7 linked regions of the Homo sapiens genome follow. The protein of the gene in region 7 interacts with the protein of the main gene of each other region in a pairwise test. Each region holds a gene or a part of one and is shown on either strand. Other genes may lie near its edges. The genes, in order: SNX3, DNAJA1, TM2D3, DIS3L, FBLN5, ZNF251 and PAXIP1.

Evidence for each region.
Region 1: the proteins of PAXIP1 (region 7) and SNX3 interact in a two-hybrid assay, tested with the Homo sapiens proteins (one large-scale study listed by BioGRID).
Region 2: the proteins of PAXIP1 (region 7) and DNAJA1 interact in a two-hybrid assay, tested with the Homo sapiens proteins (one large-scale study listed by BioGRID).
Region 3: the proteins of PAXIP1 (region 7) and TM2D3 interact in a two-hybrid assay, tested with the Homo sapiens proteins (one large-scale study listed by BioGRID).
Region 4: the proteins of PAXIP1 (region 7) and DIS3L interact in a two-hybrid assay, tested with the Homo sapiens proteins (one large-scale study listed by BioGRID).
Region 5: the proteins of PAXIP1 (region 7) and FBLN5 interact in a two-hybrid assay, tested with the Homo sapiens proteins (one large-scale study listed by BioGRID).
Region 6: the proteins of PAXIP1 (region 7) and ZNF251 interact in a two-hybrid assay, tested with the Homo sapiens proteins (one large-scale study listed by BioGRID).

The regions. Positions count from the first base shown.
Region 1 is NC_000006.12:108,254,541-108,258,040, reverse strand, and holds part of SNX3 (sorting nexin-3), read left to right. Parts: intron 1-3,500. UniProt on the Homo sapiens protein: Phosphoinositide-binding protein required for multivesicular body formation. Specifically binds phosphatidylinositol 3-phosphate (PtdIns(P3)).
Region 2 is NC_000009.12:33,028,273-33,031,772, forward strand, and holds part of DNAJA1 (dnaJ homolog subfamily A member 1), read left to right. Parts: intron 1-1,612; coding exon 1,613-1,717; intron 1,718-2,167; coding exon 2,168-2,395; intron 2,396-3,500.
Region 3 is NC_000015.10:101,645,882-101,649,381, reverse strand, and holds part of TM2D3 (TM2 domain-containing protein 3 isoform a precursor), read left to right. Parts: intron 1-2,482; coding exon 2,483-2,657; intron 2,658-3,500. UniProt on the Homo sapiens protein: Probable positive regulator of Notch signaling.
Region 4 is NC_000015.10:66,292,391-66,296,367, forward strand, and holds the start of DIS3L (DIS3-like exonuclease 1), read left to right. Parts: upstream 1-1,177; 5' UTR 1,178-1,206; coding exon 1,207-1,345; intron 1,346-1,424; exon of another isoform or gene 1,425-1,696; coding exon of another isoform or gene 1,697-1,784; exon of another isoform or gene 1,785-2,058; intron 2,059-2,597; coding exon 2,598-2,751; intron 2,752-3,977. UniProt on the Homo sapiens protein: Catalytic component of the RNA exosome complex which has 3'->5' exoribonuclease activity and participates in a multitude of cellular RNA processing and degradation events.
Region 5 is NC_000014.9:91,871,803-91,874,694, reverse strand, and holds part of FBLN5 (fibulin-5 isoform 1 precursor), read left to right. Parts: intron 1-1,019; coding exon of another isoform or gene 1,020-1,198; intron 1,199-2,892. UniProt on the Homo sapiens protein: Essential for elastic fiber formation, is involved in the assembly of continuous elastin (ELN) polymer and promotes the interaction of microfibrils and ELN. Stabilizes and organizes elastic fibers in the skin, lung and vasculature.
Region 6 is NC_000008.11:144,745,532-144,749,031, reverse strand, and holds part of ZNF251 (zinc finger protein 251), read left to right. Parts: intron 1-3,500. UniProt on the Homo sapiens protein: May be involved in transcriptional regulation.
Region 7 is NC_000007.14:154,975,625-154,979,124, reverse strand, and holds part of PAXIP1 (PAX-interacting protein 1), read left to right. Parts: intron 1-2,793; coding exon 2,794-3,429; intron 3,430-3,500.

The sequences.
Region 1 (3,500 bases), on a different chromosome or scaffold from region 7:
TGAAAACCTAATTGAGTTTTTAATGCATGAAATGACTTTGGATTTCTTTCTTTTTTTATTTTTATTTTTATTCTTTTTGAGACAGAGCCTTGCTCTGTCGCCAGGCTGGAGTGCAGTGGCGCGATCTTGGCTCACTGCAACCTCTGCCTTCCGAGTTCAAGCGATTCTCCTGCCTCAGCCGCCCAAGTAGCTGGGACTACAGGCACGCGCCACCACGCCCAGCTAATTTTTGTATTTTTAGTGGAGACGGGGTTTCACCATGTTGACCAGGATGGTCTCAGTCCCTTGACCTCATGATCTGCCTACCTTGGCCTCCCAAAGTGCTGAGATTACAGGCGTGAGCCACCATGCCCAGCCTGGATTTCTTTTAGTATGTAATGTGTTAACTTAAAACTAAGGACACCATATAGTAAGGAAATTAGGCCTTATTTGAGCAGCATATGATTTTTTAGAGTAATTATAGTCTTGCATTAAGGCAGAGTGGCTATGACATGAATAGTTTAATATTTTGTAATTTTTTTCTTCTTGAGATAAGAGTCTCGTTCTGTAGCCCAGGCTGGAACACAGTGGCATGATTGTGGCTCACTGCATTCTCAAACTCGAGGACTCAAGTATTCCCCCCGCCTCAGCCTCCCAAGTAGCTGGACTACAGGGTACTACTATACCTGGCTAATTTTTTATTTTTTGTCAGATGAGACTTGCTATGTTGCCCATGATGGTCTTGAACTCCTGGCCTCAAGTGGCCCTCCCCCTCTCAGTCTCCCAAAGTGTTGGAATTACAGGCATGAGCCACCTCACCCAGCCCTGCAATTTTATTTATTATTTTCTAAATGTTGCTGCTCTCCCGAACCCCTACTGACTACCTTTTGCTGTTGAATTTGCTATGTGGAAAACCATTTTATGTTCCAGAATTTGGGCTTTTAAACTATCTTACAGTTACTGTCTCATTCTGGTCTTGAGAAAAATTTACAGTTTTACAGGATCTGATTGAAATTACTCTAATTCACAGGGCAATTTTATATGGATGGTGGCACTTAGAATGCAAGTTTCCCAATCTCCATTTATCTTTTGGTTTGAGGATAGTGTTTAAGACTATTAGGATCACTTGATTAGTATCTCTGGGCTTTTGAAAATAATTACACAGTGTTATGTTTTTAAAAATTGTTCTAATGGGTAGGTACAGCAGAGAGCACCATAAATGATTAAAGGTTTAGGAAAGTTCAAGGTCTGGAATTATTTAGGCATATTCAAGAGAAGGCTGAAAGCAAAATTCAGTCACTGTTTATGAAGTTTGTGCTGTAATATAACTTTAATATTCTGGAGATTTTTAAGTTAATCAAGATCTATTTTACCTGGAGACCACTGTTTTGAACAGGAATGGAATTAGAATCTTTCTTGAGCTCTGACATAGTCCTCAGTTCAAAGAATAGATTTAACATTTCCTAGCTGGGTAAGATACAAAATCAAAGCTCCACTTCCCCTCTGTGAAATAGGTGTGCTAATAATAGTACCTACCTCTTAGGACTAAATGGGATAAGGCACATGAATCTTTCTAGCACAGTGCCTGGCACATAATAAGCACGCAAAATTTAGCTCTTTCTAAAGATAGACATTTTCTAAATTAAACGTCAGTGATCAACTACATTTTCTGTGTGTTAATGTTTAGTTGAGTTACTAAAATTGTTAGATTTTCTTGTCAAGAAACCTACTTGTCATGGAAGTATACCTTCATTAAGCAAGCATGGTATAAAAATAAGCTATCTTATTTGGTACTTAACCAAGTAACCTTTGTGTATGTATTTATTTTTTCGAGACAGGGTCTCCCTCTGTCTCTCAGCCTAGAGTGCAGTGGTGCAGTCACAGCTCACTGAAGCCTTGACCTCCCAGGCTCAAGTGATCCTCCCAACCTCAGCCTCTCTACTAGCTGGGACCACAGGCGCATACCACCACACCCAGCTAATTTTTAAATTATTTGTAGAGACGAGATCTCACTATGTTGCCCAGGCTGCTCTTGAACTCCTGGGCTCAAGTGATACTCCCACCTCAGCCTCCAAAACTGCTAGGATTATAGGTGTGAGCCACCATGCCAGGCTCCAAATAATCTTTTAAAGTTGAGCTTTATTAAAGCATAAAGCTGAATAATAACGTTGGCTGATAAAAATTTTGACAAGGTGCTAAATAAATGTAGCATCTTATCTTGACAGTGCTTGCCGTTCTAAACTTGTATATGTTTTTTCCTCTGGGTCAGTCATCTAATCTTAAATTAGGAGTCATTAATATCCAGATTGGAAGCTGAGAAATAAATTTTAAAATCTTAGACTTATTTTTGGGAATTATAAACATGTATTATTGAAGGGCTAAAATATTAATAGTATTTTAAAGAATCGGGGGGTCGGGCACGGTGGCTCCTGTATGTAATCCCAGCACTTGGGAGGCCAAGGTGGGAGGACTACTTGAGCTCAGGCGTTGCCACACAGCCTGGGCAACGCAGTGAGACCCTGTCCCTACAAAAATTTAAAAATTAGCCAGGCATGGTGGCGTGTGCCTGTAGTCCCAGCTATGTGGGAGGCTGAAGTGGGAGGATTTCTTGAGCCCAGGAGGAGGTCAACACTGCAGTGAGCCACGATCATACCACCGCACTCTAACCTGGGTGACACAGTGAGACCCTGCCTCTAAAAAAAGCAAAGCAAAGAAAAAAAAATCAGGGCATTTTGATGCCAGAGGACATCTGCAGAATCTATGTAGCTCTATCAATTGGCCAATGAGATGTTGTCTGTTACACATGTTGCTGCCAGCTACGGCTGACTTTTCCAGGATCTCCATCAAGGAGAAGCATGCTATTAGCAGTGAAGATTCTGTCCTTATCTAATCCATCCCCAGAATGGAGAGTGGGGGAGGAAGACAGTGGCTATTTTAAAGTAGTCCTGTTATATTGAGTTTTTAGGGATTCTGTTCTGTTAAGGGATGTATCATTTGAGTATCTTTTATGTGCAAAGCACTGTGCTCTATCTATAAAATTTAATCTTGAGGTAACCAAGCAGAGTAGATAATATTCCTGTAGAAGCTGATCAACTGATCCTCATCTCTTGTCCTTTCCTCATTTTAACTCCAGTCCTGAACTGGTATCTCCCAATTAAGCTGAGTTCTTTTGTATCCAGGCCTTTTGCACACACTTCCTCCTCTGTTAAGAACAGGCTTCCTTTAAGAGCCTCATCTGGTTACTATCACTTATCCTGCAGGACTCAGCCTTAATGTCCCCTTTTTAAAGATTTTGCTGATCCCTTGACTCTGGACCAGATTTCCTTCCTGTGTGCCCTGGTAGCTTTGTTAGGAATAAATTTGTTTGCTTGTCTTTGGCTTCCTGTAAGTTCCTGTGTCACCCATTATAAGCTCTTAGAGGACAGGGACTGTCATAATCACCCTTACTCAATATCCAACACTGCTTGGCACATAGTGGACACTTACAAATAAATGAAGTTTAAGAAAGTTAACTTCCCCAG
Region 2 (3,500 bases), on a different chromosome or scaffold from region 7:
CTTTATTGTGTCAAAATTATGTATTTAATATGTTTATCAGGAAAGTGGCCTATGGGCTCTAGAAATACTGCTTATAGGAGTAAAATGTTCAAGAGAAATCAGTCTCACTTTATTTCCAGTATAGTGTATACAAATAAGGGCTGATGAGCAGAACCAGTTTTAGAATGAATGGCCAAGCCATTAAATTTCACTTTGAGCTTCTTAAGGTTCAGAAAGATTTGGGAAATTGTTTATTCAGTTTTTCTTTAAAGATCTTCAAGGAAAGGATTATGTTTTTATTAAGATACTTAAACTCCTTAAAAAGAAAGTCCACAATCCAAATGACTTGCTTAGTAAATTGTTAGAATTTGTCCACAAAAAAGTAGTGGTGGTTTTTCACTTACCTTACAAAGAACCTGCAGGTTAACATTGGCAAGCTCTTTTATGTGGCTTATGATCATATTGAGAGGTTATTTCTGGGGAAATGCGCTTCATCAAGCTCTAGAAGCTTTATTTTTCCTTCCTTATACTCAACACTGTTCAAAATAAGGGCAGCTAGATTTTAGCGTGCCAAAACTAAAGGTGGAACTATAAGCAGAAGGACATAATTAATGGTATTTCATGCTTGATTAGAAAGTTAAAATGTTCATTAGGCATATTGTACAGAAACGAGTTTGAGAACTTTTTTCAGTTGGTGGAAAGGCAATAATATTGTTGTGAATAAGTCCTTGTGGAAGGACCACTAGTTAGGAACTTACTAACTTACTAGCAGGTGACTTCATACTTCTAACCTCAGTGTCCTTATGAGATCTTGACCTTCCATTTCCTATTCTGATTTAAGTGAAGTAAGGCACTCCTTAGTAGCCACTGGCCATGTGTGGCTCCATTAATTTAAGACAAAAACAAAAATACGGTTTCTTAGTCTAAATGGCCACATTTACATGCTCAATAAGCACATGTGATTGGTGGCTGCTACGTTGGACAGAACAGATATAAAACATTTATCACTGCAGAAAGTTCTGTTGGGCAATGCTATTATAAAAGGTATGAGAAATTTGGCCTTCAAAACAACCAGTGCTGGCCCAGCAGTAAATGGGCTGTTTTCTACTAAATCAGGAAGAAGTAGAAATTGATACTCTTCTGTGGTGACTCAATAAATACATCAGCTTCCCTGGCCAATCTTGATTAATGAGAATTTACTGTGCTACAGAATTTTTGGATGAAGTAATTGGCCATGTTGCTCAATACGGTACGAAGTGAAAGCTTCAAAAAATATATTGTGACAGAAATGAATGTTTGGATTATTGTGAAATGTGCCCTTTTAAATAACATTGGTTTTTCTCAAGTGACTTTGAAGGTAATGCTTTTGCTTACCATATTTCCAAGATGGCCACGTCTGTGCCCTTAAGCAAATATTTAATCTCTGACCTGATTTTCCCTCATCTGTGATTACATCACAGTTTGAGGATCATCTGTGATAACGTGAACATTCTGTGTATATAGTAGGTAGTCAACAGATGTACCCTGTGAGGCTCATCTTTTATTATTCTTTGCCACATTCTTTATAGTGCCTTTAGCACAAATAAGATCCAGCATCTTAAACAGATTTGCAATGAGAAATATTTTGTTTTAGGTAAAAATGTTGTACATCAGCTCTCAGTAACCCTAGAAGACTTATATAATGGTGCAACAAGAAAACTGGCTCTGCAAAAGAATGTGATTTGTGACAAATGTGAAGGTACGGTGTTTTTTTGTTTTGTTTTGTTTTGTTTTTAAGCACCTTTAATATGACACCTGAAAATGGAGCTAAGACTTCTAGATAGATATGTAAAATTGATTCATGTACACTACCTAGATTTTGGGGGAGGAGAGGGCAGATATGAAGAAAACCAACTGAAAACCTCCCACCTAAAGAAATATCAGCACTTTTTTCTGTGTATATTTTAAATACAGTTGGGATCAAGCTAGTTTGGTATCTTTTTTGTAATAAGTAAAATTTATTGGAAAGTGTGTTCTAATAAGAATGAAACTCATTGGAATGATCTCATCAGTTGTACATTCAGAGGGTAGCATTCCATCAGGCTTCGAAAATATTAAAAGTATAGCATTTAGGAATTGTCTTCTTAAAACATTTACTACTGTATACACTACTAATTCATACATTATTTAATTTTCTTTTTAAATTTAGGTAGAGGAGGTAAGAAAGGAGCAGTAGAGTGCTGTCCCAATTGCCGAGGTACTGGAATGCAAATAAGAATTCATCAGATAGGACCTGGAATGGTTCAGCAAATTCAGTCTGTGTGCATGGAGTGCCAGGGCCATGGGGAGCGGATCAGTCCTAAAGATAGATGTAAAAGCTGCAACGGAAGGAAGATAGTTCGAGAGAAGAAAATTTTAGAAGTTCATATTGACAAAGGTGAGTTCTGAGTTACTTATTCTGAAGTCTTGAATGCTGTGGCAGATTTATTATTAACATTTTATAATTGTTTAAAAATCATTCTTAATTAGGTTATATATGATCCTATCAATCAGAAATAACTCTTAGCAGCTTAGTAAATAATGTTCTTTTATCCAGACATAATTTTGCACATTGGTATATTACTAATACAGAATATATTAGGAATCTCCTCATTTAATATAACAGGATCATCTTTTGAAATCTGTGGTCCTGTAAATGATTGAATAGTGTTCCAAACTTAATTCTCTCCTGTTAAACCATAGTTCTTCCATCTTTTAAAACATTAGAATTGTACACATTCTTAATTAGGAGTTACTAGATCAAGGGATAGGCATACTTTTAAGGATTTGAAAGGGGAGTTAGGTGAAGAATTGGGTCTCATAAAAATTCATGGTTTTTTTGGAGACGGAGTTTCGCTCTTGTTTCCCAGGCTGGAGTGTGCAATGGCACGATCTCAGCTCATTGCAACCTCTGCCTCCCGGGTTCAAGCAGTTCTTCTGCCTCAGCCTCCCAAGTACCTGGGATTACAGGCACCCAGCACCATGCCCGGCTAATGTTTTGTATTTTTAGTAGAGACGGGGTTTCACCATGTTGGCCAGGCTGATCTCGAACACTTGACCTCAGGTGATGACCTGCCTCGGCCTCCCAAAGTGCTGGGATTACAGGCATGAGCTACCGCACCCCGCCTCATGTTTATTTTTTAAACCAATGGGCATGTTTTTGTTTGTTTGTTTTTTTCTGAGGTAGAGTCTTGCTCTGTTGCCCAGGCTTGAGTGCAGTGATGCGATCTTGGCTCACTCTAACCTCTGCCTCCTGGGTTCAAGCGATTCTCCTGCCCCAGCTTCCCAGGTAGCTGGGACTACAGGTGTGCACCACCACACCTGGCTAATTTTTTTTGTATTTTTAGTAGAGATGGGGTTTCACCATGTTAGGCTGGTCTCAAACTCTTGACCTCAAATGATCTGCCTGCCTTGGCCTCCTAAAATGCTGGGATTACAGGTGTGTGCCACCATACCTGGCCTGGGCTAGTTTAAATAAGCGTATTGGCCCACTTAATTGGCTT
Region 3 (3,500 bases), on a different chromosome or scaffold from region 7:
TTTAGAAGCCATAAAATAAAGAATTGATACATTTGACTCCTAAAAATTGGAGATTTCTGCATGACCTAAAAAAAAAAGCATAAAGGCAAAAGACATGGCAAACTAGGAAAAAGCGTTTCTAGAATATGTGACAAATAATACAGTAATATCAGTAATATATAAACACTTCCTAAAACCCACACGGAAAAGATGACAGTCTTGTAGAAAAACAGTGTTAGGACATGAGCAGATGGTTCATAGGAAAGGAAATACAAATAGATATATAACATGAAAAACATATAAGTTTTCTCATAGTATTTAATTAATACATTTTTAACCCTTAGATTGGCAATTTTTTTTTAATTTGATTAACTCTGAGTTTGTGAGAGTATAAGGGTCAGATGCTCATATCTTATTAATAGGTAATCAAATTGATCAACCTCTTGTAGGCGATTTGCCATATCTGTTAAACTTACACATGCACACAATCGTTGAGCTCGTAGTTGTACATGTAGGAATTTATGTTATAGATATCATTATACATGGATGCAGATAAGTGTGCTTATTTTTTAGCTGCATTGCTCATTAAAGCAAAAGATTCAAAAGAAGTGAAATGTCTAAGAACTGCTTAATTTATGGTACACGTGTAATAGAATAAACACCTTGTAGCCATTAAAAAGAACTAGGCAGCTCTAGAGGTAATGTACTGATAGATGTCCAAAATTAAGTGAAAGTATTGGGGAACATTAAATGTAGGTGACATAAATGTGCCTATGTGTAGAATCAGCTCTCTCTGGAAGCACAGAGCGTACTTGGCCTGGGGAGGGCAGGGGCTCCCGGCGGCTGGGCCAGACGAGGCCGGCTCACTTCTCACTCTCCTGTTGTGTCTTGACATGTGTTCCATGTACATGTGTCACCTACTTTTTAAAAAACCATTAAAAAAAGTGTGTTTTAAGCACATCACTGAAAATAGGCAGATGTAAACGTATTATTTTGCAGATCCAACTGTTTGCCTAAATCAAGTGATGCCTTACCCATATTTGAATGTTTTCCATAAAAAGTGGTTTTTGCATTGATAAGAAAATGAATAGTACTTGCTTCATCAGCGCATATGCCAAAGTTGGAACCATACAGAGAGAATTAGGATGGCTCTTCTGCAAAAATGACATGCAAATTTGTGAAATGTTAAAAAAAATAACAAACATGGGCCGGGCGTGGTGGCCTACACCTGTAATCCCAGCACTTTGGCAGGCCGAGGCAGGTGAATCACCTGAGGTCAGAGGTTGAGACCAGCCTGGCCAACATGGTGAAACCCCATCTGTACTAAAAATACAAAAATTAGCTGGGCGTGGTGGGGTGCGTCTCTAATCCCAGCTACTCAGGAGGCTGAGGCAGGAGAATCGCTTGAACCTGGGAGGCGGAGGTTGAAGTGAGCCGAGATTGCACCACCGCATTCCAGCCTGGGCGACAGAGCGAGACTCCATCTCAAAAAAAGAAAAAAAAATAATGTGTGTATGTGTATATATATGTATACATATATATACATGATGCTTCCAGAGATGTGTGACCACATAAAAATGATTTTGAAAAATATGCACTGCAATGTAATGTCAGGTAGAGTAAAAAGACTACAAAGTGCTTTCAGTATAATTCCATTTTAGTAAATTTATAAATATACATGTAGAAGAAACGGAAAGAAGATTAAAAGTGGTTAGCTCTGAACACCTATAGGTTTTTGTCTATAATCTTCAAATATGTAACATACAAAGAACATTCTACTTTTGTAAGCAGAATACAAAATAATGGCTTTTAAAATTGAAATGAAAAATTCTCTGGCCACCAGTGAACACTCACTGAGCCTCCACACACCATGTGGTGCTTCTGAGTTGGGCTGCCTCTGGATTAAACATGCCACATGCCCTGGTGGTAGGAGCAGCTGTAACAACCCTGAGTTGCCAGGCTGTGCAAGGTAGGGGATGTTAGGGAAGGTTGGCAACTCGGAAGCAAGGCGGTGTGTTAACCATTACAGAAGCATCAGGCTGGAGTTCAGGGACCTGGATTCCACTCCTCACTTGAAGCTCAGTGACCTTCAACAAATGCATTCATCAGTTCCTTCCAGCCATCCGTGATTGTGACTTTCTAAAATAAATTTTCCTCTTTTCTGCATTATAAAAGTATACGTTTACTATGAAAAATTTAGCTAAGCAAAAGTTATGAAATAATTATATCACCCTGAAATAACCTTTGCTATTTTGATGTGAATTTATCTAGTTTTTTCCCTTAAGTACATATGTTTGGGTGTGTAGTTTTATGATTATGAGGTCACATCATAGGCATTTGTTTTACATACATATTGTTTTGGTAACTGTTTTTCTGGCACTTACTCCTAGGTCCTAAATACAAGCATTTACGGAATTTTGTGCCATGTGACTGTGTAGTCTTACTGACATCTTAACAGACTACACCATTGTGATTGATGAGTTTTGTGTCATTTGCTACATAGGATCAAGACTTCAAATCCCAAAAGAACTTCATCATTAACATGACTTGCAGATTTTGCTGGCAGCTTCCTGAAACAGATTACGAGTGTACCAACTCCACCAGCTGCATGACGGTGTCCTGTCCTCGGCAGCGCTACCCTGCCAACTGCACGGTGCGGGACCACGTCCACTGCTTGGGTAGGTCAGAGTTCAAGGACATTTGTCAACAAAATGTTTTTCTCCAAGTTTATTGAAGGGACTTTAACCAGAAATTTGCGAGTCAAGTTACTTAATTAGAAACATTTATCAGCAGCTCTTTAGATGTGCCAAGCATCATCAATAAACTCAACGTACTAAAGTAAAGCATCCAGAAAATTGCAGTTCTTTTTAAATGTAATATTTGATAAAATAAGAAAAACATTTGAAGTATAAAGCATAATACACAGTAATTGACCTTTACCCAAAATAACAATGAAAGCAGCACCAATACCATTGCGGCCGCCTGAGTGCCTGAGTGCTTGCCTTCACCTGGTTGCCTTTCCTCCTCTTCCAAGGTAACCACCCTTTTGAATTTTTTATTTCACTTCCTTTTAAATTTTTTCTGTAGTTTTATTGTCTATATGTAATAAAATAATATTCAATAATGCATGTTTTAGAACCGTGTAAAATGATTTCAGGCTGTGTGCTCTTCTGGGACTTGCTTATTTCCTAAACATTGTGGCTCTAGGATTCATCCACGTGACTTCTCTTCTTTTTTTTACTTCTGTGTAATAATCTATTGTAAGATTGTATCACAGTTTATTCTCCAATATATTTGGTTAAGTGCTGTTTTCCGCTGTTGTGACTGTTCAAATTTCTTTGCCTGTCTCCCAATGGCACAGGTGCAAGAGCTTCTTCAGCATGTACTTTCCAGCGTGTGTCATTCTTTAAATGGCTGTATTGACTGGCATTCCCACCCGCGCTATGTAACTGTTCCTGATGAGCCATATTCTCTCCAAGAGTGGTTATTCTTAAATTTGGTCTTAAAGTTGTCTAGACTTC
Region 4 (3,977 bases), on a different chromosome or scaffold from region 7:
GGATTCTATCCCATCAAGGGTGTGTGATCTCAGAAGAGACTGTGTGCATCTCTTTATCAAGAGCTACAGGCTGGGCGTGGTGGCTTACGCCTGTAATCCCAGCACTTTGGGAGGCTGAGGTGGGAGAATCACTTGAGCCCAGGAGTTTGAGACCAGCCTGGGTAACATAGTGAGACACTCCCATCTCTACAAAAAAAAAGAAAAGAAAAGAAAAGAAAAAAACGCTAGGCGTGGTGGAGAAGATCGTTTGTGCCCAGAAGTTCGGGGGCTGCAGTGAGCCATGATCATGCACTATACTCCAGCATGAGTGACACAGCAAGACCCTGTCCAAAAAAAAAAAAAAAATTAATACAAACATGTACGTTTGTGATTGTGTCACAGTGGCAGTTTAAAGGAGAAATCCTTTGCCAGAGGCTGCAAAAGCTATAAAAGTTGGAGTGGAACAGTGCTTCAAGGGAAGAGATTGGTTTTCATTTTATCTGCATTGTTTGATTATATAAGTACATGATAACTTCAATAGGGATACCAAAACAAATAAATAAATTTTAAAAAGAACATGAAAGGCCAGGCGCAGCAGCTCACACCTATAATCCCAACACTTTGGGAGGCCGAAGCAGGTGGATCGCCTGAGACCAGCCGGGCCAACAGAGCAAGACCTGCCCCCCTCACCCTCCCATCTCTACAAAAAAAGAAAAAAACTTTAAAAAAAGTACATGTAATTTTAAATGAATATAACTTTTTAGAAATGTTCGGCTGGCAGGGTTGCCGGCTTATGTGCTGAGTCTTTTACCTCGTTTGGAGATAGCGAGAGCAACGAAGAGAAAACATTAATTACCCGGTATTAGTATTAATACGGCGGCTCCATTCCCACATGGACCTGGGGGGGACAAACAAAGTCTCCTAATCTTGGACAGCTGCGCCCAGCCCTTCTTCACCTGCCGTCCAGGTATCATCCTAGTCTTCCCTCCGTCTCTGGGGTAGGTCGTTTCCACCCCTCCGCCCTGGTCCAGGCCACTGAGGGAAGGGAAGAAACTAAGGCCGGGAGGGCCGGGCCCCAGCCTGGAGCGTGTAGCTCCGGGCCTCCCCCGGGCGCGGCAGTTACGGCGGTTCCGGAGCCGCGGCGCCTAGGGCCGAGGGGCGGGTCCGAGGCCGCGGCCTTGCCTCCGCCGCGCCCGCCACTCCGCGGCCGCCGGGAGACACGCCGCCATGCTGCAGAAGCGGGAGAAGGTGCTGCTGCTGAGGACCTTCCAGGGCCGCACGCTGCGGATCGTGCGCGAGCACTACCTGCGGCCCTGCGTGCCCTGCCACAGCCCGCTCTGCCCGCAGCCCGCCGCCTGCAGCCACGGTCAGGGCCGGGGCGGGGGCGGGGACGGGGCCGGCGGGAGCGGGCGGCCGCAGTGAGGGGCTGAGCGCGGCCGGGAGGCGGAGCGCCAGCGGCGGGGACACGGAGGCGTAGGCCCCGCGGCCTGCGCCCGCTCGCCGGCCTCACCCCCCGGCTCTCTGCCGGTGGGGACCCAGCGGCCCGGGTCCGCGGCTTCTGGGGCGCCCGGGACTCCCTTACTGCTCCGCCCTGTCCAATGGGAGGGCCCGACAGACCCGCACCCCATGCCGGAGGCCGGGTGGTTTGGCTCCTCAGAGGGGCCTGAGGGCGCGGAAGCCGAGGCCTCCTCCCGCCGCAACCTCGCGCCGTGGAGAAATGGGGAGGTCCCGAGCTGGGAGCCCCCGGGAGCTACAGGCCAGCTGCTGCCGCTGCGAAGCTGACATCGCCTGCTTTGCAGCCACAGGTTTCCTGACCTGCCCGCACTGTTGCCCCAGACTTTTCCCCCAGTGGAGAGCCACTTCACCGTAGATTTGTGAACTCTCTGGGCCCGCACTGGAGCGGAAGGTCACGGGGAAGTTGGACTGGGGACTCCTGGGCCCCAGTCCTTGGTTTCTAGGCCACAAGGGTGGCCGATAGAACGATGCACGTTACTGGCTCTCTTCCCCCATGGGAGGATGAGAATGGGCTGGGGGTCCTTGTCAGCGAATGTGTGGAATCCTCCAAACATTGTGATTAAGGTGAACATTTCAGTTAGAGCTTGGCTAACCAGCTCTCAGATGCAGGTCTGGTGGGAAACCTCACCTCTGCACGTTGCTTGCACGGAGCATTTTCTCTGTTCAATCTTTCTGGCCCTTGGAGGCTGCTGAGCACGTGCAGAAGCTTGACACAGAGCCAACTTTAAATTGCTGGGCATCATACACAAGTGGTATAAATGTGGGGGTGCTTCATTTGAATGTGTTTGTCAATGATGAGTTAACACTGAAATATTCAGGTTATGCTGAAAATGTGCTTGTTCGTTGTTAAATCAGCCATCCTCTCCGGCACCTCTGGCAACACCATAAACCACGTTGAGCTTGTATTTATCACAGCTTCCAAAAAAATGAGGGTGCTCAATATACCTGAACTTTGGGCCTCTACCAAAGTAGATTTGTCTTTTAAAAACTCCCACCATGGAGTTAAGACTGGAAGTTATTTTGCATGCCAGAGCACCGTGACATTTAAATAAACCAGGTTTGAAAACATTGTCTAATCTCTTACATTTTGAATTATGTTTCAGATGGGAAACTCTTGTCTAGTGATGTGACTCATTACGTGATCCCAGACTGGAAAGTTGTTCAAGATTATCTTGAGATCCTTGAGTTTCCTGAGTTGAAGGGAATTATTTTCATGCAGACAGCTTGTCAAGCTGTGCAGCATCAAAGAGGCAGGAGGTATACGTTTTGCATTCTTTATTTCTATATGGCATAGGTTCCCCCCACCTTAGAAAAGGTCCCTTGTCGGAGGGGGATGGGAGGAATTCATTATTTTGTCAGAAGGGACTTTTAAAACTAATTTCGTATTCTCTTTGATAGTGAGGAATGCAGTAACATTATTTTATATTTCTGCTTCAACACCTGGCCAAGAGATCTGACTGTAGATTAGTAAACTGCAGTGTCCCCAGTATGTGGGTATTTAAGATTCTAGTGTGAATTGTCTTTTGGCTTGCATTTTTATAGTGGCAGGGTTATTGCTTATTTCTTGTTGATAATGTGTATTATTTAATCTTATTTATAGATACATTGTTTCAGAAGCATACGTTCTTTTCTTGGGGAAAAGAGTACTTTATTTTTAAATTTTAGACTCTTTTATTGGGGATGCAAATTGTACTTGTAATGATTTATTCAATGAAACCAGAAATAGCTTGTTTTATTTTTAGATTACTAGTGTAACTACCAGCCATAGTCATTGTATTTGCTAAACAAAGGCTTTCTAATTGAACAAGTCTAAAATTCTTGCCTAGTACTTAAATGAAGAATAGCTGTCTACCTTTTAAACAAATACTTTGAAAAACGATTTTGCTTCCTTTAATGTTGGGAAAGGTTTATGACTTGAACTTAAAACTGTATGGAAATAGCATATTAGAATTATACGTCCAACCTTTTAACACTCTAAGTTATTTAATAAGCACCAACTATGCATTTATTCTTTTTTAAAATGTTGTGGTTTCTTCAGGCCTTAGTGATAAAAGATGAAGTGTTTTTATTTGTATATGAAAATGGCAAAAAATTGTCCTCTTATTATATGCTCAGTTCAAAAAACATACATTAACCAGATTGTGTGCAGGTTTTTTCAGATAGAATATTTTTAAATGATCTTCAAGTTGATTTTGTTCAGACACCAAGATATAGATGTTTATACACATCCAAATTTAAATGCTGCTCCAGGTGTCATATTTCAGTTTCTGCTACTAAAATCAATTTGTTGTTATCATTCAGATTGCTAACACACTGCGAGCCTTTTCAACTTCTGTTTTCTGAAATATTTTTAATGTTAAGGATTGTTTTAGAAACCAGTTCCTGGGACATTCAAAGACAAAGAGTTGGAATTTAAACGTTTTTTTCTCCTGAACATTTCAAGAGTAGTTAACTTGATGAAAAACTATTGGTTTTCCACTGCC
Region 5 (2,892 bases), on a different chromosome or scaffold from region 7:
GCCTGTATGTGCCAGACACTATTCTAAGTGCTTTCTATACAGTAACCCTTTAATCTTCACAAGAATCCTATGATATAGGATGGTTTTATCGTCCAGATTTTACAGATGAGAGCACTGAGGCACAGAGCTAAGCAACCTGCCCGACTAGTCTCACAACTAATAAGCACCAGGGCAGGATTTGAACCTAAGCAGCCTGGCACCAAAAATCTGTGCTGTTATACTTTTCTTCAGAATGGGGAGGTATGCTTTACCTACTCTTCCAGCTTTGGGGTCTCAGATGAAATGGAGATCACAAGAAAAGTCTAACATCCAGTTACAATAGAAAGTATTCCAGAAATAGCAGTTATGATTGTATAGATACTGTTGTGGCCACTGCTACTGTTGCTGCTACTGCTGCAAGGAGGCTGGGAGCTGCTGGGCCATGGAGAGCTTGGGAATGCTACCCAGGGGACTGGAGCATCGTGTGGGAGGTGGGGCTGGATGGCCATCCAGGCTCTCACACCCTGAGATTCATTGATTTGATTATAACCACATGGGAGGAGCTTCATCTCACCCCGCAGGCAAACCACACACACACACTTGCATGCACACATGCACACACTTATGCCCACATGCGTACGTGTACACACACACACAAGCCCATTCATAAGCCTTATTGGCTGCCTGTCTCTCACTGAGCCCTAGAAAGAGGACTGATGATTGGCTTTGGCCAGGTGGCTTGGGGGTCATAATTAGGGCCAGAAGAAGGAGCAAGGTCATGGGGTTCAGACTGTGCCAAAGTGCACTTACTCCATGACACACGTGGATCAAGTGACAGGGCCCATGGAAGCTGGCCTGCTACAGCGTGGCTGCTTGCCACAGGTCAGACCATGCCATCCCACAAGTTGATTAGAATAAACCTGAGTGTGTTTGGGATCAGGGCCAAGAAGACACACAGCTGGTGGGCTGTTGGCAGCCGACTCCCAGCGTGGTCAAGTCCACTGGCGTTCAGTCATTCGTGTGCATTCTTCCGTTACCAGCGTGCATTCAGCACCACTGCATATGAGGCTTCAAGTCAGGCACTGAGCGTTGAGAAACAAACAGGATGTGGTCTCTGCCCTGGAGGAACCCACACACACCTTAGCGGAGAGGGGGAAAACAACCTAGCAAACACAACACAAAGTGGCGATTCTCAAGTCAAGTCAAGACCCATGGGATGGTGAGTAAATGGAGAGGTACAGAGACCTTATCAGAGAGTGTAGTGGTTAGAAGCATGATTTTTGGAGCCATAAAGTCTAGTACCATGCAGTAGTTTGGTGGCCTTATGTAGTATCCCTAACCTACTTAGAGCATAGGGTTGTGAAGATTAATTAAGAGGTGTAGGAAAGGTTGTAGCCAGATGCCTGGCATCATAACCACCACCGTCATCACTGTCGCCACCATCCTCCTCCTCCTCATCTTTTCGCACCACCAAGCCTACTAATGCCCACGGGCTCTCAGGGGTTTATTTCATTAATGCCCTGGCTCTGCCCTAAAAGCCGAATGTGGAGGTGGCTGTCCTCAGCTCTTGTGGCAGGTACTTGAGCTCTTCCAGGTGCTTGTGGGTAGGGTGGACCCAGGTGGAGGCCGGACTCACCAGCTTCTGCAGTTACTTCCAAATGGGAGAGTCTAGGATTTCAAATGGGATAGTTGAGGATTCTTTCGTACTCAGGAGACATTTACCAGGAGAGCCCAAAGGAACAACTTGGAAGTTTGCACTTGCCCCCTTCTCCCTTCCAGACCTTGGGCTCTGCAGATCTCCCTCTGGAGGGCTGTCCCTAGCTCAGGGTTCTCAACTCTTGGTCTTTGTTCACGCAGTGAAAGCTGGTGAGATATTTGTATATGTAAAGGCTGCAGGCATTTCCTTGTGTGGCTTTACCCTCTGAAGCCCTGGCCCAGGGCTCAGGTTTCGTAAGGGCTGACAAGGAAGTCCAAGAAATCTGCGTGAGGAGGTGCCAATAACGTGGATGCTGACGGGAACAGGAGGAACCAGTGCCAAGAGGAAATTGTGTGGCTGTCAGGCTGCCGATAGCCTCATGGATAGGGGAGGTCCCAGCGCCTGGCCTGCACCTGTCTGCCAGCCCCACCCTTGTCTTACTTGTGGTGGCTCTTGGGGATGTTCAGAACTTTATGGGGCGCCCTCCTTTTATGGAGACAGATAAAACATCTAGTGTAGCTTTAAACCAGCTAGGTTCCTTTATTTTGCAGAGACTGTTGCTTGCAGCTTCTGGGCACAGGGCTGGGCTCTGCAGTGTATGGGAAGTGATTGTCCAGCCCATCCCTTTTCTTCTTCACACTGTTTCCTCTAACAGTGCCAATATCTGTCCCTTGCACTGACCGCGAGCATCTCTCATTAGGTGGGTGCTAGGAAGAAGTGAAACACACATCAGCCTCTTCTGATACCTGCTGTGCAGTGAAAAAAGCCTGGGGCTTGGGGTCAGAAATACCTGAATGGAAGCCCTTGGTTCTGCCCAAGACTAGCTGGGTAACCCTAAGCAATTATTTAACCTCATGGGACCTCAGTTTGCTTACTTATAAAACGGGGAAGTAATGAGTCATACCTTTCATACAGCACTTAGACAAGGACAGCCAGGGCCCCCCCACCTGGGTCCTGTGCTTTTAGATCAATATTTCTCAATACTTAATGTGCACACAAAGCCCTGGGGATTGTGTTAAGCCACAGATTCTGGCTCAGTAGATCCTAGCCCTGAGATTCTGCATTTATAAGAAGCTCCCTGGTGATGCCCATGCTGCTGGTCCAGGGACCACACTTTGAGTGGCAAGGCCTTTCAGGGTTTTATGAGAATTTTTTTTTTTTTTTTTAGCTGGAGTCTCGCCGTTGTCCAGGGTGGAGTATAGTGGTGCGATCTCTAT
Region 6 (3,500 bases), on a different chromosome or scaffold from region 7:
CACCACATCCAGCTCTTTTTTTATTTTTGTAGAGATCAGGTCTCACTATTTTGCCCAGGTTGGTCTCAAACTCTTGAGCCTCAAGCAGTCCTCCTGCTTTGGCCTCCTAAAGCACTGGTATTACAGGCCACAGTGCCTGGCCCCAACTGTGTTTTCTATAAGGAACCTGCTTCGGCCAGGAGTGATGGCTCCTGTAATTCCAGCACTTTGGGAGGCCGAGGTGGGAGGATCCCTTGAGCCTGGGAGTTTGAGACCAGCCTAAACAACATAGTGAGAAATCATCTCATCAAAAAGTTAAAAAAATTAGCTTGGTGTGGTGTTGTGTACCTATAAGTCTCAGCTACTCAAGAGGCTGATGTGGTAGGATCGCTTGAGCCCAGGAAGTTGAGGTTGTAGTGAGCTGTGATTGCACCACTGCTCTGCAGCCTGGGCAACAGAGCAAGACCCCATTGCAAAGAAAAAAGAAACCTGCTGTCTCATGACAAGATCTTGCCATGAACAAAAAAAAAGAAAAGAAGCCCACTTTAAACATAAAAACACAAAAGGGATGGAGAAAGATAGTAATCCAAAGAAAGCGGAAATATCTTACTACTTTAGACACAAAACATAACAGATCTTGAGGTGTATGGGCCTAACAACAGCATCAAAATATGTGAGGTTGGCCAGGCACAGTGGCTAACACCTGTAATCCCAGCACTGGGAGGCCGAGGCGGGCAGATAACTTGAGGTCAGGAGTTCAAGACTAGCCTGGCCAACATGATGAAACCCCATCTCTACTAAAAACACAAAAATTAGCCAGGCATGGTGGAGTGCACCTGTAATCCCCCCTACTCAAGAGACTAAGACAGGAGAATCACTTGAACCTGGGAGATGGAGGTTGCAGTGAGCCAAGATTGCACCATTGCACTGCAGCCTGGGCGACAGAGTGAGACTCCATCTCAAAAAAAAAAAGTGAGGTTGTCAAGTGTGGTAGTCATGCCTGTAATCCCAGCACTCTGGAAGGCCAGGAAGGGCAGATCGCTTGAGCCCAGGACATTGAAGCTGCGGTGAGCTATGATCACGTCACTGCGCTCCAGGCTGGGCAACTGAGTGAGACACTATCTCTAAAAACCACAAAACCAGCTGGACACGGTGGCTCACGCCTGTAATCCCAGCACTTTGGGAGGCCGAGGCGGGTGGATCACCTGAGGTCAGGAGTTCGAGACCAGCCTGACCAACATGGAGAAACCCCATCTCTACTAAAAATACAAAATTAGCCGGGCGTGGTGGCTCATGCCTGTAATCTCAGCTACTCGGGAGGCTGAGGCAGGAGAATTGCTTGAACCCAGGAGGCAGAGGTTGCAGTCAGCCGAGATTCGCGCCATCGCACTCCAGCCTGGGCAACAGAGCGAGACTCCGTCTCAAAAAACAACAACAACAAAATATGTGATGCGAAAACTGATAGAACTACAAGGGGAAATAGATGAGTTCACTGTCTGCAGTTGGAGATCCAGCACCCTCTATCGTAAATGGACAGATCCAGCAGGATGCAGTTGAGTTTAACAGCACCATCACATCAGTCAGCTGGGAATAATTTACATCTGTAGACTGCTTCATCCAACGATAGCAGAATGCACATTCCTGCCAAGCTCATGTGGAACATTCACTAAGATAGACCACATTCTGGGCCACAAAACACTTTAACATACTTGAAGAATAGAAAACATAGAATGTCTATTCTCAGACCACAATGACATGAAACTAGAAATGAAACCAGAAAGATAGCTAGAAAATCCTAAAGTACTTGGCAAATAACACACTTCCAAATAACACGAGTCAAAGAAGATATCTCAAGATAAATTTTAGAATATTTTGAATTAAGTGAAAATGAAAATAAAACTTACCAAAATTTGTGGAATGCTGTGAATGCAGTGCTTAGAGGGAAATTTATAGCATTGACTGCATGTATTAGAAAATGGGAAAGATCTAAAATCATAATGTAAGCTTTCACTCTAGGAAACTAGAAAAAGAAGAGCAAATTAAATACAAAGTAAGCAGAAGAAAAGAAATAAAAATTCAAGCAGAAATCAATGAAATGGAAAACAGGAAATCAATAGAGAAAATCAACGAAACCAGAAGATGGTTTGAAAAAACAATAAAATCAGTAAACCTTTAGCCAGACTAAGACAAAGAAGAGAGAGGACACAAAATACTAATATCAAATGAAAGAGGGAACATCACTACAGAGATGTCCCACAGACTTTTAAAGGGTAATAAAAAAAAAAAGATGAACAACTCTGTGCCCAAATTTGATAAATGAACCAATTCCTTGAAGTACACAATCTCCCAAACACGGGAAGAAATAGACAATCTGAATAGGGCTATGTCTGTTAAATAAGTCAAATCAACAATTACCTTCCAAAATAGAATCCACTGGGCTCAGATGGGTTCACTTATGACTTCTACCAAACATTTAAGGAAGAAATTATACCAGTTCTCTATAATCTCTTCCAGAAAATAAAAACAGAGGGAATACTTCCTAACTCATATGAGGTCAGTGTTATCCACCCAAATGCCAAAACCAAACAGACATTACAAGAAAAGGAAACTACAGACAGACACCTCTTATGAACATAAATGCAAAAATCCCAACAAAATATTAGCAAATCAAATCCAACAATGTATAAAAAGAATTATATACCATGACCAAGTGGGATTTGTCCCAGGTTTACAAGGCTGGTCCAACATTAGGAAATAAATTAATGTAATGTGATGTACCACATCAACAGGCTGAAGAAAGATCATGTGGTCATATCAGTAGATGCGGAGAAAGCATTTGACAAAATCCAACCTCGATTCATGATTACAAATTCAACAAACTAGGAATAGAGAGGAACTTCCTCAAGTTGATAGAGAGCATCTACAGAAAATCTACATTTTCCTTTATACTGGCAACGAAGAAGTGGAATTTGAAGTTAAAAACACATTATTTACATTAGCACCACTAAAGATAAAATACTGAGGTGTAAGTCTAACAAAATATGTACAAAATCTGTGAGGAAAAATACAAGACTGATAAAAATATATCAAAGAAGAGCTAAATAAATGAAGAGATAGTCTGTTCATGAGGAAAACTCAGTATTATCATGATGTCAGTCCTCTGCTTGATTTACAGATTCAACACAATCTCAATCACAGTCTCAGGGGCTAAGTGTGGTGGTTTATGCCTATAATCCAGCACTTTGGGAGGCTAAGGCAGGAGGATCGCTTAAGCCCAGGAGTTTAAGACCAGCCTAGGCAACATAGTGAGACCCCATATCTACAAAAAAATTTTTTTTGTTAGCTAGGCCTGGTGGCATGTGCCTATATTCCCAGCTATTTGGGAGGCTGAGGTGGGAGGACTGCTTGAGCCTAGGAGTCTGAGGTTTCAGTAAGTTATGATCATGCCACTGTATTCCAGCCTGGCTGACAGAGCAAGACCCTGTCTCTAAAAAACGAAAAAAACTCAGCAGGTTATTCTG
Region 7 (3,500 bases):
AGGCAAAGGCATCTAAACATTGCTTTCCTCTTAAATCATCTTTGTTTAAACAGTTACTGTCTTTCAGTGATTAAAAACTACCTATCTTGTGAAAAGCGAGAGAAAACTTGAGTGAAATATAGTAAGGCTGTTTACCTAAGTGTTTTACTTAGATTTCCACAGGAAATAGTCAAGTTATTTCTGAAATGTGAAATGCCAGCATTCTATACAAACTAGGAACTCAAGAGCCTACTGGATCCCAGCCTTTTAAGTGTGAAATTATCTTTTTCATATCCAAAATTTTCAGTGACTCCTCTTCATGGCAGTAGTTTTGTTTTGTTTTTTGGTATTTGTTAAAACAATTAAAAATAACTTTTTTTCATATTTTACTATTTCAACAGATATCTTTTTAACTTGGAAAAATCATATGTAAACCATATTACATATAGTCATATGTTATTCAAGCAGATGATATTTTTGTATTAATTGGTTCATAAATATTCTGCTGTGTACCTGGACTTCATATTTTCCTAAAATAACTTGGGTTTTTCTGGAATGGGTAGTCCAGAAATTGAAAATCTCTAGTAGAAATTTATCATCTGGGGAGAGCTATATAACATTTTATGCTTTTAAATATTTAAGAACAGCATGATTTTTTAGGGTAAAGAATAAGACATTTTATTGTCGAGGGTATAGGTAAATTGATGTACTCTTACATAGCTGTTGGAAGTGTAATTGGAATAGCCTTTTTGGGAAGGGAAGTGTAGTTAGAGATATGAAGCCTTAAATCTATTCCTTTTCAAACCTCAACACCAAAACCTAGGAATTTGTCATAAAATATAACTGCAGTTTTTCATAGTAGTGAAACACTGGAAACAACCACGTGGCTAACACTGGGGGATGAACTAAGGTACACAGCTGTGCAACCGAAGAGGAAACTGTAAAAGCCTTTGAGACTACTGGGGAGATCTGAATAGGGCCTGAGGATGAGGTGAATCATAGTTCATTGTGCTGCTATGATAATTATGGTGGTTTAGAAAGTCTTTATCAATTTGAGATCCGTAAACAAAGTTCAGGAGAAGCAAGATTTGTAAAAGATTGCCAGTTATTAAAGCTGGGTGACAGATACAAGGGATTTATTCCACTAGTCTCTAATTTGGTCTGCGTTCGAAAATGTACATTAAAAAGTTTGGTCTGCGTTCGAAAATGTACATTAAAAAGTTTGGTCTGTGTTCGAAAATGTACATTAAAAAGTTAAAAACAAAAGCATAAAAGTATACATGTTTTCATAGGAAGAGGTTGTTCACAATATATTAAGTGAAAAAGGAACATTATAAAGTATTTGTTCACTATGACTATATGTTTTTTCCCTTTGCCCTTTTAATATATGTACATATATATTTATAACAAAAATAAATTTAAACTATACCCTAAAAATGTTAATCGTGGTCCTTTCTAGTCAGTGTGATTATGATTACATTCATTTTCCTTTGCTTAGCTTCTTATTCATGGGTGTCTCCCATGACTAGGTTTTTCTTATATTTTAAAAAGGTTTGAGAAAGAACAAACTCACAAACACAAGTTAAGTCACTGAGCTGTGTGCAGAGCTCACTATTTGCAAGGATCTCCCAGATGGGCAATGCCTGGCGTTCGCTGCCAGGACCGAATGACCAACAGCTGTCCTCTCTGTGCTGCTGCCCCGCATCCCTATTGCGTGTGACTCTTATTCCACCCAGAAATTGCAAATGCCACCTTGGGGCTCTGCAACAGGACACGGAGTTTAGTTTAGGGCCCTGATTATGTGTTTGCTAGAGAATTGCTGTTATGTGTTAAGCTTTTAGGAGCACAGCCAAATTTACAACTCATTTATTTTAAGGTTACTTTATTGTCATATTACTCTTATTTAACATTTTTTATTTATTTCCTCTTTCTTTGTTATTCCCTCCCCTGTGCCTTCCACATTCTACACCCTTTACCACAGGAGAGGTCTCTGTTAGCTTGCCGAACATACTACTCCGGACACATCTTTTCCAGTGGGCTGTATTTTCTGCTTTCATTCTAACTGTGCAAATTGTCATCATTTGTGCCCCAGCCAAAGCTCACCTTTCAACGGGGCTTTCCTCCTGCCCTCCAGCTTATGTTGATGAGATTCCCTTCCAGTCTGTTACTGCATCATTCAGCAGTGGTTTTATATTGTATTTGCATTCCGTATTTAATATCTCTTTAGAACCAAATTGTGAGCCTTGTTAGGTCAGAGACTTGTTGCATCCTTTGTGTCTCCATCCCTTAGTGCTGCTTGGCATATAGCATGAGCTCCATAAATACTGGATCTTGAATAGAGCTGTCCTATGCAAGTCAGCCAAGTCAGCCATGCTCCATGAGTGTACGTGATGCATTGGCGGCACTCTGCCACGCTGTTACTTTACTAACTGTCATGGAAAACCAAGCTTCTAAATATTATCAATCAGTAAAAACTTAGGTAGCAATTATTCATTTCATAATTTTCCATAGGATTACTAGCTCTACTTTTGTACTTAAAATATCATTTTAAAAAGTTAATTTTCAGCCAAGTCTTTTAAGACTCCTGCTACAGGTGTGAGACCTTCCTATGATCACTGCTGTATGGTTCCTTTTCACTTTTGCCTCATGTCCTCTGTCTAAAAGATCAAACGTTGCTTCTGTATAAAATTGTAATAATAGTTGCTCAACATTTCAACTGCATTCCTTGACTGAGTTTTTTCTAAAATGCGTAATTGTAGGAAATGTGATAAAATTTACAGCTTTGTTTTGTGTGTGTTTCTGCTTTCCTCGTAGGAGAAATACGAATGTGCTTTAAAGCGAGCAAGTATTAAAATTGTGACTCCTGACTGGGTTCTGGATTGCGTATCAGAGAAAACCAAAAAGGACGAAGCATTTTATCATCCTCGTCTGATTATTTATGAAGAGGAAGAAGAGGAAGAGGAAGAGGAGGAGGAAGTAGAAAATGAGGAACAAGATTCTCAGAATGAGGGTAGTACAGATGAGAAGTCAAGCCCTGCCAGCTCTCAAGAAGGGTCTCCTTCAGGTGACCAGCAGTTTTCACCTAAATCCAACACTGAAAAATCTAAAGGGGAATTAATGTTTGATGATTCTTCAGATTCATCACCGGAAAAACAGGAGAGAAATTTAAACTGGACCCCGGCCGAAGTCCCACAGTTAGCTGCAGCAAAACGCAGGCTGCCTCAGGGAAAGGAGCCTGGGTTGATTAACTTGTGTGCCAATGTCCCACCCGTCCCAGGTAACATTTTGCCCCCTGAGGTCCGGGGTAATTTAATGGCTGCTGGACAAAACCTCCAAAGTTCTGAAAGATCAGAAATGATAGCTACCTGGAGTCCAGCTGTACGGACACTGAGGAATATTACTAATAATGCTGACATTCAGCAGATGAACCGGCCATCAAATGTAGCACATGTAAGTCACTCTTTCCGAAAAAAATGTCAGTATTGGATCTTAGAATTGGATTTCACAGTCTATTTCAATGT